3 linked regions of the Homo sapiens genome follow. The protein of the gene in region 3 interacts with the protein of the main gene of each other region in a biochemical or structural test. Each region holds a gene or a part of one and is shown on either strand. Other genes may lie near its edges.

Region 1 (3,500 bases), on a different chromosome or scaffold from region 3:
AAAAACACAGGGTCACCTCTTAAATATGCTGGATTCTCAATGAGTAAACCAGTTAATGTGTTTCTAGCCAAAGCAAGGGCATAAATGTTTTAGAGAAAAGATTCCCCTGGAGCTACAGAGAAAAGATGCTGATAAAGCAATATTGAGAGTTGAGCAGGTGATGCTTTTAGTCTGTGTCAGAGCTGGTCTCTTCGATGACAGAGTACTGGTTGAGTGCTTCCTCCAAAGGCGTTATTGTCCCATCAGGTTTTAGTCCCATTGGTTTAAGCAACTCCTCTCTAGAAAAAGAGATAAAAGAGAGAGAAAAAAAAGTATTCACCAGCATCACACACACACCCCTCCCCCCCACCCAAATCCACAACCTTTTAAAAAGAAAAGTCTTTAAAAACCAAAGTATTTTCCCTTGAGCTTTCTCTGTGTGTTTGTAATAGGAAAGATGAAAGGGGCATGGAAAGAAAAAGAGGGAAGAGGGAGATAAAAGACTTCATTCACACAGGCCAAACCTACTAAGCCAATTAAAAGTATGAAAAGTCAAGGTCTAAATGGGCTCAGGACAAGGAGCAGGTCTCTTCTGTTTTGAATAATTAACCTTTTTTTTTTTTTTTGGTGGATTGGTTTTGTTTTAGACAAGTTGAAGCTGCCAAAATTTCACCTGCCCCAGTGGTTGGAGCATACAATTAAATGGCTGATTTGATATGCATACACTTCATTCAATGGAATAAATCTGTCGGTTTTGATTTTGCCTCAGTCTCTAGTGATATGTAAGTACATGTTGATTCATTTCAAATTAGTTGGCCTTCCCCAACTCTCTCCCCGACTTTTCTTTCCTTCTCTCTCTCTCTTTCACTCTTTCTTTCCTCCTCCTCCTCCTTTCTAAAAAACACCATTGCTTTTGTTTGTGGCAGTTTAATTATGGGATTGACAGCCATTTTAATCTCTTCAAAGCTCCGCAACTGCCGCTTTTCAGCTAATCCAATTATATCTACTCCACAAGTTACAGCCTCATCTAAAGATGATTAATTATTGATTAAGCCAGTCAAAAAGCATTAGGAAAGATTTATTTAATCTTTTCATAGGCTCTTATTTATTACATGGAGATTATGGTGAATGTACCTGTTGAGTTGCTAACTCCAGTCCTCCCATCCCTAGAAAGGTCAGCAGTGTACTTAAGAGTGGCCTTGAAGAGCCCCATGAACTGCTTAAAACTTATTTATCACAGAAATGGGCATCACCCCCCAAAAACATGTCCATAAGCAAAAACCCACATGGCAGCAGCTATAATGTTGGTGGGATTTGGATGGAGGGGAAATGACTCCCTCCTCACAGTTGTCCCTTAGGCCAACAGAAAGAAGGGCTCCCTCCTGGGAAGGGGCAGCCACACAGTAGTGTAATGGTGTTACAGACACAGTGAAATCTCCTGGGGAGGAGTGAGAACAGCTCAGTGGTCAATGGATAAGCCAACAGGAGCCTAATGAAGAGCTCTGGCTAGCTCAGTAGACAACTTCGAAGTGTTTGAAAGCTTTGCTTGGGAAATGTGAACGTCTGACAGGCTAAATTGAGGCTCCTGAATACTATGAGGGAGGAAATGTGTTTCCCAATCCAAGAAATGGGGTCAGAATCATAGAACTTAAAGTTGGAAGGGGTCTGAGAGATCATTTAGTCCAACCCCCTTCTTTAATAAAGGAGACTGAATGACTCATCCAAGGTCACTTATCTAGTGGCAGAGCTGGACCTGGGACATGGGTCTCCTGAATCCTAGTCCAGTGATCTTTGCAGCCCACCACATCTGGATTAATTGCCCTAACTGCATTGGAGGAGCACACTGAGTTCATGTCTTCAACATCTGTTCAATGACTATGTGACAGGAACTATGTCATATACTGGGAGGTAAGGAAGACTGGGTACAGCTGCTGCCTTTGAGGAGCACGGAAAACAAATATATGCAAAAGTCATTTTGAGCAGAATGAGGTAAATGCTGTAAGAGAATTATGAACAAAGAAGTGAGGCAGCTCCTGAGATGAAGCACTGACCAGGCTGCCTGGGGAGGGCACTGTCAAGTGAGGTGTCAGTGAGTGGCCCTGCACTAGGCAGATGGGCACAGAGCATTTCAGATAAAAGAGACTGTAAAGAGCTCTGAATGGTCCCACTGACGTGTGTGATTCTCTATCTTTTTAAACCTTTTTGGATTGTGTCAGCTCATCTTTTCTATCTCTGTGCTCTCATGAAGCCGGGAAAGGGCCCAGTGTTTGGGGAATGGTGAGGTTCAATGAAGGAGGGGCAGGAGGTAAGGCTGCAAGGGTAGTTTGGGATGCAATAGTCAAAAATGTCTTAAATGCCAAAATAAGGAGTTTAGATTTTACCCTATAAAGAGTGTTTGATTACGTTTGTTTTATAAGAAAGTACCTCTGGCAGCAGCATGATAGACACATTGGAATTGGTGGCAGATAGACAAGTCATTAGGGGGGTCATCATAATAGTGTGTGGGGGAGGAGACAGACAGCTGGATTAAGTCTGAGGTTGTGGGAAGAAAAGGCAACATTTCTGAGGTAGATCTCATGACTCACTGGGAGGAAAAGGGGTTGGAGAATGAGAGTAGTAAGTAGAGAGTTCCTGTTGTTTCAGCTCAGATGACCAAGTGGATGGTGACTCTATTCAATGGGGCCAGGACATAGGAGATGGAGATTTGGTGGGGAGATTCTGATATATTTTAGGACTTGAAGGGCTTGAGGTGCCTACATGACAACCATGTAGAAATGTTCAGTGGAGAGCTAGAAACAACGTTTCCATTAAAACTTCTCTCTAGCACTGACGTAAATTACATACCTATATTTTAAATAAATTCCTAGTTCTGATTGTGCTAAAGGACTTTGTGATGTTGGACACTACATATTAACAACTGAAGCAAAAGGAGAAGAGGGAGAACCTGCTGGGAATGAAACACTGAGGGTCTGAAGGGGTTGGTAAACTCAGGTGTGGGGTGGGGACTGAAGGGTAGGGATAGGTAAAAGTAGGATTGGCAGATGGGACTGAGTGATAAACTGCTGGGTGGATATACCATCACTCCTGAGACTAAAACTACTGCATCTCTTTGATAAAAAGATGATTCTGGGGCTAGCTACTAACTTGTGTGAAGTATCTAGCACTTTCTCATCTAAACCCAGAAGTAATATTTTCAAATAAGTCTATCAGCTTTACCCTTGCTCCCTAATCCAATTATGCAAATAATTAAAAATATTAGTTTTATGGCCAAATTATAGGATTTCATTATGGAACAACGGGCCTATATTTTAATTCTTACTTGTGAACTATTCTCAAGCATTTACTTTCTGGGTGCTTTGTATCAACCCCCACTAAAATGGAAGCTCCTCTGAAGGTATGAATTATTTTCTTCTCCACATGGCTCTACGTAATGCCTGGGCTCATTGATACTTCTGTAGGAAAGGTGTCAGTGAACACTGGCCATACAATCATGCATTGTGCAAATGAATTAAGGCAGCAAT
Region 2 (3,500 bases), on a different chromosome or scaffold from region 3:
TTGCTGGGAAACAGTTGAAAAGAAGGGGAAAGGGCACAGGAAGAAATGGGTGTGGGTGCACTGGAATATTTAATAAATACTTGCTAAGTGACCTATAAAGCCGGGGAGTCACAGTTTAGGAACAAGGGCTTAGTGCATAACATTTGCTCTACAAAACGGCAACATGAACTGTAACGCTTGGAAAAAAACGTTTTTAGGGTCTATCTGAGCACTATAAAAAAACCCCATCTAATATGGACCACTTCCCGCTTCTTTCTCACTTACCTTTTTAGGGTCCATATTAAATTTTTTCCTGCCCATGGCTACCTGTTTGTTCCTCTGCATGTTTTTCCTGTAAAACAACCATCACAGCCATTTTAGTACTTCAGGCCATCGGAAAGGCTTGAAAGACTAATATGATTTCCACTGATTTACACAGGTTTTTGAAAGATTTATCCAGGAAAGCAACAGGCATAATCTGGTGGAACTATGAAAGGCCAACTGAAACCTGAAGCCTGAACCTGGCTCCAAGCTCCAAGCTCATTTGCTCCTTCTACCCTGGAACAGAGGTTTTCTTTATTTTTTTTTGAGACAGGGTCTCTCTCTGTCTGAAGGCTGAAGTGCAGTGGTGCTATCTCGGCTCATTGCAACCTCTGCCTCCTGGGCTCAAGTGATCCTCCCACCTCAGCCTCCCAAGTAGCTGGGACCACAGGCGCATGCCACCATGCTCACTGTGTTGCCCAGGCTAGTCTCAAACTCTTGGGCTCAAATGATCTGCCTGCGTCAGCCTCCCAAAGTGCTGGGATTACAGGCATAAGCCACTGTACCCAGCCAGTTTTCTTTTTTTAACATGATTTTTAAAAAAACTTTATCAGGGTAGGCCGGGCACAGTGGCTCATGCCTGTAATCCCAGCACTTTGGGAGGCCGAGGTGGGTGGATCACAAGGTCAGGAGTTCAAGACCAGCCCAGCCAACATGGTGAAACCCTGTCTCTACTAAAAATACAAAAATTAGCCAGGCATGGTGGTGGGCACCTGTAATCCCAGCTACTCGGGAGGCTGAAGCAGGAGAATCACTTGAATTTGGGAGTTGGAGGTTGGAGTGAGTGGAGATCCACCACTGCACTCTAGCCCGGGTGACAGAGTGAGACTCCGTCTCCAAAAAAAAAAAAAAAAAAAAAAAACTTTATCAGGGTATAATTTACTTATAATACTCCTACTGTAGGTACATATTTGAATTTTTAGTATACTTACTAAGTTGTGCAACATCACCATAATCCAGTTTTAGAACATTTTCATCTCCCCTACAGAATTCCTCACACCTTTTTACAGTTAATCCTTACTTCTACCTCCATCCCCAGGCAACTATTAATCTATTGTCTGTCTCCACAGATTTGCCTATTCTGGACATATCATACAAACAGAATCATAAAAGATGTGGATTTTCAGATCTGGCTTCTTTCATTAGCATAATGTTGTCAAGGTCATGGTGCTGGAGCGTGGGCCAGTACTACATGCCTTCTTGCTGCTGGGTCATCTTCCATGGTATGGATAAACCACATCTGTTTATCCATTCACCAGATGATGGACACTTAGGCTGTTTACAGTTTGGGACAATTATGCAGAAGGCTGCTATCAGCATTTGCATATATGTCTTTGTGTGGACACGTTTTCATTTTCCTTGGGTAGATACCCAGGGGTGGACACTGCTGGGTCATACGGTACATCTGTATTTAACTTTTTAAGAAGTTGCTAAATAATAGGCAGTTTTCTTGACTGTATCAGAATGAAAAATGCAGATTCACAGACCAAGCTTCTCAAAGTCTGGTCCACCAACCAGCAGCCTTGGGAGCATATCAGACGTGAAGACGCTCCGCTCGTTTATACATACACGTCACCTGGGGCCTCAACAAAACAGATTCTGACTCTATGTCTGAGAAGGGGCCTGTGCTTCTGCTGTATGTTTAACATGATCCCATGTGTGGAGTCTGAGTAGCAAGGCCCTGGACCGGCTGAGTAACTCAGAAGTACAAGGGGCAGAACCTAGGAATTTGAATTTTTAAAACCTCCTGCAGTAATTCTGGTATGCACCCAAATTTAAGAACCACTGCCATCAATATCAATAGTAATTTTATAATCTCCGAGAGCAAAAAAGTTGCTCGGAAATAAAATCATAAAATGTTATTGCCTTAAAGAACACATGTGTTCTCTAGCTAAATCCATGGAGGGAAGAAAATATTCCTAAGTGTTTTGAGGGTTGGTGTTTTTTGTGTTTTTGTTTTTGTTACAGGCAGGGTCTTGCTCTGTCACCCAGGCTGGAGTACAGTGGTGTGACTGTGGCTCACCGCAACCTTTAACTCCTGAGCTCAAGTGATCCTCCGGCCTCAGCCTCCTGAGTAACTAGGACTACAAGCAGATACTACCACAACTGGCTACTTTTTAAAATATTTTGTAGAGACAGAGTCTTGCTATGTAACCCAGGCTGGTCTTAAACTCCTGGCCTCAAGCAATCCTCCTACCTTGGCCTCCCAAAATGCTGGTATTATAGGCATGAGTCATCGCATCCAGGCTGTTTTGACCTTTTGAAAGGAACACCTGAAAACTGTGAGTAGTATCAGAACTTCCAGGTGTAAGATAATCTGGGCTCCCCTGTCAACAGCTGCCTTAGGAAACAAAGTCATGGGGGAAACACCATTTAATTTCAGCCAGAATGAAGGGTTATGACCAGGTATCTAGAAATTCCTATTTAACTAAAATGATTGTCTAATCATTTTTTTCTAAATCCAGGAAGATTACTTTGATCAGTATTTCCAAACAAATACCACAAGGAAGGCCTGTTTCATGGTTTCCAGTGTAAGTGGTGAGGCAGCGTCAGAGGTGCCCACAGAAGCAAGGGGTGAAACTCCTGGGAATGCTCAGCTTCCTGGGCCTCAGTCCAGTCCTCACCAAAGGCTTTCCTGCAGCCACCAGAACGCACACTCCCAGATATCCGCCAGTCACAGTCTGTGCCACATGACTGCCTGGGACACACACCAGAGATGGCTCCCTAATTTCATTAGCTAGCCAGCTCACTTCTCTATCTGCCCCACTTGGAGCCCCTATAGCTCTAGGCCTTAGGCAGCTACTTCTCTAAGTGGCTTTCCCCAGCCTACACAGGTCTGACACCCCAGTTAAGGTGTCCAAAGGAAAACAGCTTACTGCTACTGGATCGCCTTAGTTAACTGACGCGTATACATTTCAGAAAGTGAAATCCTGTACTACATGAGTATATTATTTCTGCTTGATTAAATAGTATTTAGGATCATTCCTACAAAATGCATCAGATCGTCGATGAGAAACATGAATTCTCTCCTATAAGAAAGTCCGAGCAAATGTAATGCCTGCTTGAGAAACAAATGCAGGGTGAGCCTGAGTACCCGTATGGATGGATCCTCAGGGATGTGCAGAATCACTTCCGTCTTGGCGCTTTCGATACCGGAAAACCATTTTAAGTTCCAGATTAAAAAATAATAATAACCTAAA
Region 3 (5,610 bases):
AATAATTTTATATTCATAATTAGTTGTAATTACAAATATTGCATTATATTAAATACACTATTCCACAATCGGCCTTTTTCACATAATTCATCTTTTAAAAAAGCTATTGCATAGATTATACTGTATAAATTCAATGTAAATTCTTTAAAACCTTTCCAATTTATATGCATACAAAAAGTGTTCATGTGTGTCTGCTTCCCTATACCCGGATCAGCACTAACTCCAGGTCTCTGGTTCAAACTCATAATTGGGTAATCAGAAAACTTCCTTCTAGCGTAAGGGAAGCAAGGAGAACAAAGAGATGAAGAAGGAGTACAATAATGAGGGAAGAAAAAAAAGCCAAAGAATGAAAGGTGAGAGAAGGAGTTTAAAAAAGGGACAAGTGACTGAAAATGAACAAAGTAATGAGGAAAGAGGAAAGAGGTTAAATATTAAAATGCTAGGCATCTTTCAGGAATAGCCTTATGAATCAGGTCATGAATCCAAGCCAAGTGTACCAAAGGCCTAATTTGATTAAGATTCGATAAAGGCGGGCTTGATTCAATTCAATTAACGATCAGAGACCAGATATCTTAACCTAAGCTTTTACTTTTAACTACTTATAAATGTTCTTTAGGTCTTTCCTTTGCGATTTGAGTTTTTTTCTCCTCAATTTTTAGTCAGGTTTTCCCCGCAAAGCTGAATGTTATCTGAAGAAAATTCCCAAAAGCTCACTCAACAATTTTTAGAGCAGAACAAAGTACATGTTTCACACTTTTAAAGAAAATGTTCAAATTTTGATTGCAGCTGAGTAACTTCAAAATGGCTTCATTTTAAAACCTACCAGAAGAGACGGATCCAAAGGAAATGCATATTTTAGACTAATTGTTTAAAGATAGTTCAAAATCAAATGAGCAATACAGGAACTCTAAATGACTGGTAAAGGATCTCTGGCTGGTCTACTACTACCAATTGGTGTAAGAAGAGCTTAGAGGTAGAGGAGAGTTATTTCAACTCCTTCATGAAAGGGCAGGATTTTCATTCTACTTCCACCCTCTTTGCTGCCTTATAGCTCCTCTTGCTTTTTCTTTAAGTTTGTCTCTAACATCTAGAAGACACTATGAGGGAAGGGAAAGAAAGCTGGTCTGGAAGGGCAGGGGACCTGGCCTTCAGTGACCTTGGCCACAGGCCTTCATCTCTTCATTCCTGTAACCTCATCGTTATGACGCACACCAGCAAACCTGATCTGTCCCCGCCACGGTGAGGTCAGCTGGTAGATTCTGATGAGTAGCAGCTTCAGCAAGTTTTGGGTATAAAGTGCTAAGGTATTATAAACGTCTATGCTTTCCTTTTATCAATTGAGCAACTTCAAAAATCAGGTTTGAAGGATGAATACATGTTTATGGAAACCAAGGTCAGGGAATCCACCTTGATCAAGGAGGGCCTAGGGTAGGGAGAACTATCTTGACGTTTTAATAAAATGATAACATAATTCCTCATGACCATTTCAAGATGATTAATAAATTCAAAGCTCACATTCAAAGAGGACATGGAGGAGAAAAAGGTCTCAGTCTTTGAGATTCTATAAAGAGCTTAGCCTGGAAGACAGTCATTGAGACAATGTCTGAGAAAACATCTTTGTAGTAGTGCTCAGATATTCATGAAACAGAAAATCAGAAAAATAAAGATTAAAAGGCAGTGTTTGGATACACACTGATAAACTAAAATATGTTATAAGCATGTCTTATTGTGTGCTTTGGGCTTTCAGGAGCACTGAAATAACATACCCATGAAAGGATTACAGCAGAATAGTGGATTCCATGCTGGTGTGTTATCACAGGGAAAATAAGACAGCAAAGGGAATACACACATCAATAAGACAGTAAAGGGAATACGCAAATCAACACAGCTCTACCACCCTGGGTATTCTAGCCACTATTTGATAATGTATTTCCTTCTTTGAAGGAAAAAAGAAATTCATTCCCCAAACAATAGAAAGGCTGAGAATCTAGGCAGACAAAAGCAGACCTACATAAAATTATGAAGATTTATAAGGTTTTAGAAATATTAAAAAGCAAAAGCAATAATCTAAAATGCTTCCCTTAGCTGCTTTTGTCTGTGGTCTGCAATGCATTTTCCACAGTTTCCTGGGATAGAAAGAAAAGCTGTCAGAATCCATTCCTAGGTTTTTCTCACAAATATATACCAAGGGAGGGAGGCACAACAAAGTCTGCTTTGGATTAAAGTTATGAACATCAGACTTCTAAACCAAGAACAAAATGTTTCTGGAGTTTATTTCAGTTTTGTCTCACCAAAACCAAAAAATCTGGGGAAACTAGAATTCTGTAGTTCTGAATTTTCTTAATGATTAAGGAAGCTGAGAGGCAATGACATTATCATACATTAGTACAACTGGGGAAAAAAAGGGGTAATGAGACTACATCCCAACATTAAAAAATATTTTTTTGACAGTACTTCCTAATTACAGACAGTGATAGCTGTGGCTAATATGGATGAAGGAATTAATGAACAGCACTTTTCTCATGATCCCATACTATCATCAGGCTTGACTAGAGGTCTCAGAAAGGAACACCGTACAAGTTGACTTTCATCTTATAGAATTACCTAGACTTTCAAAAGATTCACAAGTGATTAGGGAGTCCTAATGAAAAAATGATAGCTTTATTATTTTAATTTGTAATTATTTAAAAGTAGCATAAGACATCACCACAGGAATCAAAGGAACTGGGACAATATTTTTAGACGTTCTTAGTACCTGTACATTGAATGTCAAGTTACTGTGGGAACTTTAATTATGACACATGATAATAAAAACGATGCCATTTTATTCTAATTAACATAATATACTTTTATATAAAAATCTAGTCACTATTAGCTATGTCTGAGGAAAAATGGAATAAATGATCTGTAATGTTCAGATAACTGAAGAACCAGATTCAATTCGGTTGAACTGAATTAGCTGATGAGTTGCCAAAGGATTCTACTTTCTTTTCTATTTTGATAATTTTGAAGTGGTAAATTGATAAGTATTACATCATGACATATACTTCTTCATATATATATAATGCATTTATCTTGTGGAAAATGTGTATTGATAAACACTTGTCCTCCTCTAGCTATAATGTAAACATCAGAAATAAATTCACATTTGCTTCTTACATCTCTTGTGTAATTGATAAATGCAAATTTTATTTTACTGGATGGCAAATTAAAGAAGAGAAATGACAACCTACATAACAAAGGCTTACCTTTCCCCCTATGGCTTATTCTGACCAAAAGCATATCTTGTTTATAAGGTCTTCTAGGGCAGAGTTGATTTTTTTCCCCATTTTTGTGTCTTTTTAGATACTCTGGTACCCAGCATATAGTAGGGAAGCCCTCAAAATATTTTTTTGTCTTGACACAACATTCAAAAAAATCAGAAGTGTTAGAATAGATCTGCTCCCAAAATATGCAGTATGTTTAAAATACTACATCCAGGGATTATGTAACAAACAAGCACAGACATAAAGATATACAGATAAAGATATCATAGCTAAAATTCTGACAGTAACTGCCTTGTATCTTGGTAACTTACTGTCATATATTGTAGCATGCTTTTAGGCACTTTGCTTTAGAGTTATTGGGGGCAACTGATTGATAAACAAGCCTCATTCTTAAACAGAAGTTATTTGGTTAACTCCAAAGCCAATATACTTGTAACTCAGGAATGATTCCGAAATGCATGAACAGGTGACTCTCGGTTCTATATAGACATTGGTTCACGGAAACTTTATCAATCCTATACATAAAAGAAATACTATAGGAGCTTGGATATGTATTTTAATGGAGATATTAATACTGGCAGAAAAATATTTAAAAGAACCAGTCAGGAATTCTTGTGTACCTAAAAAATGTACTGTATTAAAAGCATAATATGCTAGATCCTATTTTAGTCAGCAAACGGGGATCTCTCACTTCCTTCTTTTTTGCTACCCTATTATTGGGATATTTAATATTTATTATTAACCTACCACACTGCAATCTCTGCCTCTAACAGGATATCAATGGTGTCTTCCCCGTTCCCCCAACACACACATACACATGCACACAACTACAGCTCAGAAGTACAGATTTCTACATCCCTTAATATATTCCATAATCGATTCATCGTCAGGTCTTTACCATCCTGAAAATCCACATTTACACCTATTAAGTTTCCCTGTAACAGGGAGGAGATAACAATACTGAAATTGTTCTCCAGACAGGCATATTAAGGATACTTCTTCAACTGCTCACTGCTTAATAGAGACAAAATTATGCAACAGCCTAGAGAATTCTATAAGAGCAGAAAGGCCGCATCACCAAGATATTCCATGGTTCATAATGAACTGATTTAGAGCCCAGCTGCGAAGTCATTCACATTTGCCAAGAGAGATTTTGAGTACTCTTTGGGACACACCCATCACACAAACAATGATTTAAACAAAATGAAAACAAAACAAAACAGGATGACTCACTCCAACACTCCCAGTTCTATCCTGTAGGAGGAAGACTATAAAATGATCTGATGATTAGCCTAGGATTTCCATGTTATTTTCATTTTCAGAACCTCTGCATAGTGTTAAAAAGTATCAAATAGGCTCTAATTAGATTTGAACACAAAGACCTGCTCACACATCTGACAGAAGAGCTTACCACAGGATTATTTTTGGTTATTTTAAAAGTCCTAAAATCAAATTTCAAGAAAGCAAAGAAGTAAGTTCACTCCATTCCCCACACCCTACTTTCTATCATTTACTTGTATCAGATAATAAAATGATAATCCATTGCCTGTCTAAAGAACACTTACCTCATTGTCTGACTCCACGAGAACTTGATCATATTCACTAAGCGCTACTAGAAACATGATAGAGGTGACATTTTCAAAGCAGTGTATCCATTTTCTTCTCTCTGACCTTTGGCCCCCTACATCGACCATTCTGCAAGGTTAACAATACTCATATTAATAACATATAAAGTAAAACTAAAAAGTCAACATAAATATAGCACTACTTACAAACTTAGGGAAAATATTCTCTTGAATGACGATGATCATCCAAGTCAATTCAATTAATACTTATTGAATAATTACTAATTTCTTATTACCTAATATTCAAAGTTAAAACATTCTGGGTAACACATCATGATGGTTTTAAGAAAGTTACCAGTGTGTACGAAAACTGTAACACTGTAAAAAACATCCTTATCTGTGCCAAGCAAAATGGTATTTTATTTAATGAAGCGCTGAAGAGTCCAAAACTGAATGAGTTTTGTGTTAAGCCCTACTGGCAAATACTGAACTTCAGTTTCTTTTCCTATAAAATCGGAAAAAAGATCCTCATGTATTTCTTATGGATGCTAGATATGACTACAAGTATACTTAAAATATGTGAGATGCTATACAATTCAATATGGGTGGTATGATGCTTCCACTAAATGCAGATACGACCCCACTCATCCTTTATCAGCAGGGTCGGCATGTTGGGCATTTTTTTCTTCCCAATATTGATAAGAATTTGGCACAGGTCCAGTCATGTCAGGTCACTTACTTGAAATAAAGTGTGAGTGAATGAAGATACTACAAGGTAC

The links. The genes of interacting proteins can lie anywhere in the genome.
Region 1: the proteins of GNAQ (region 3) and RIC8B form a complex in vitro, tested with the Homo sapiens proteins (one study listed by BioGRID).
Region 2: the proteins of GNAQ (region 3) and CYTH1 form a complex in vitro, tested with the Homo sapiens proteins (one study listed by BioGRID).

What each region holds. Positions count from the first base shown.
Region 1 is NC_000012.12:106,882,682-106,886,181, reverse strand, and holds part of RIC8B (chaperone Ric-8B), read right to left. Parts: exon of another isoform or gene 738-3,500; intron 279-737; coding exon 167-278; 3' UTR 1-166.
Region 2 is NC_000017.11:78,702,274-78,705,773, forward strand, and holds part of CYTH1 (cytohesin-1), read right to left. Parts: intron 332-3,500; coding exon 265-331; intron 1-264. UniProt on the Homo sapiens protein: Promotes guanine-nucleotide exchange on ARF1, ARF5 and ARF6. Promotes the activation of ARF factors through replacement of GDP with GTP.
Region 3 is NC_000009.12:77,789,632-77,795,241, forward strand, and holds part of GNAQ (guanine nucleotide-binding protein G(q) subunit alpha), read right to left. Parts: intron 4,962-5,610; coding exon 4,832-4,961; intron 1-4,831.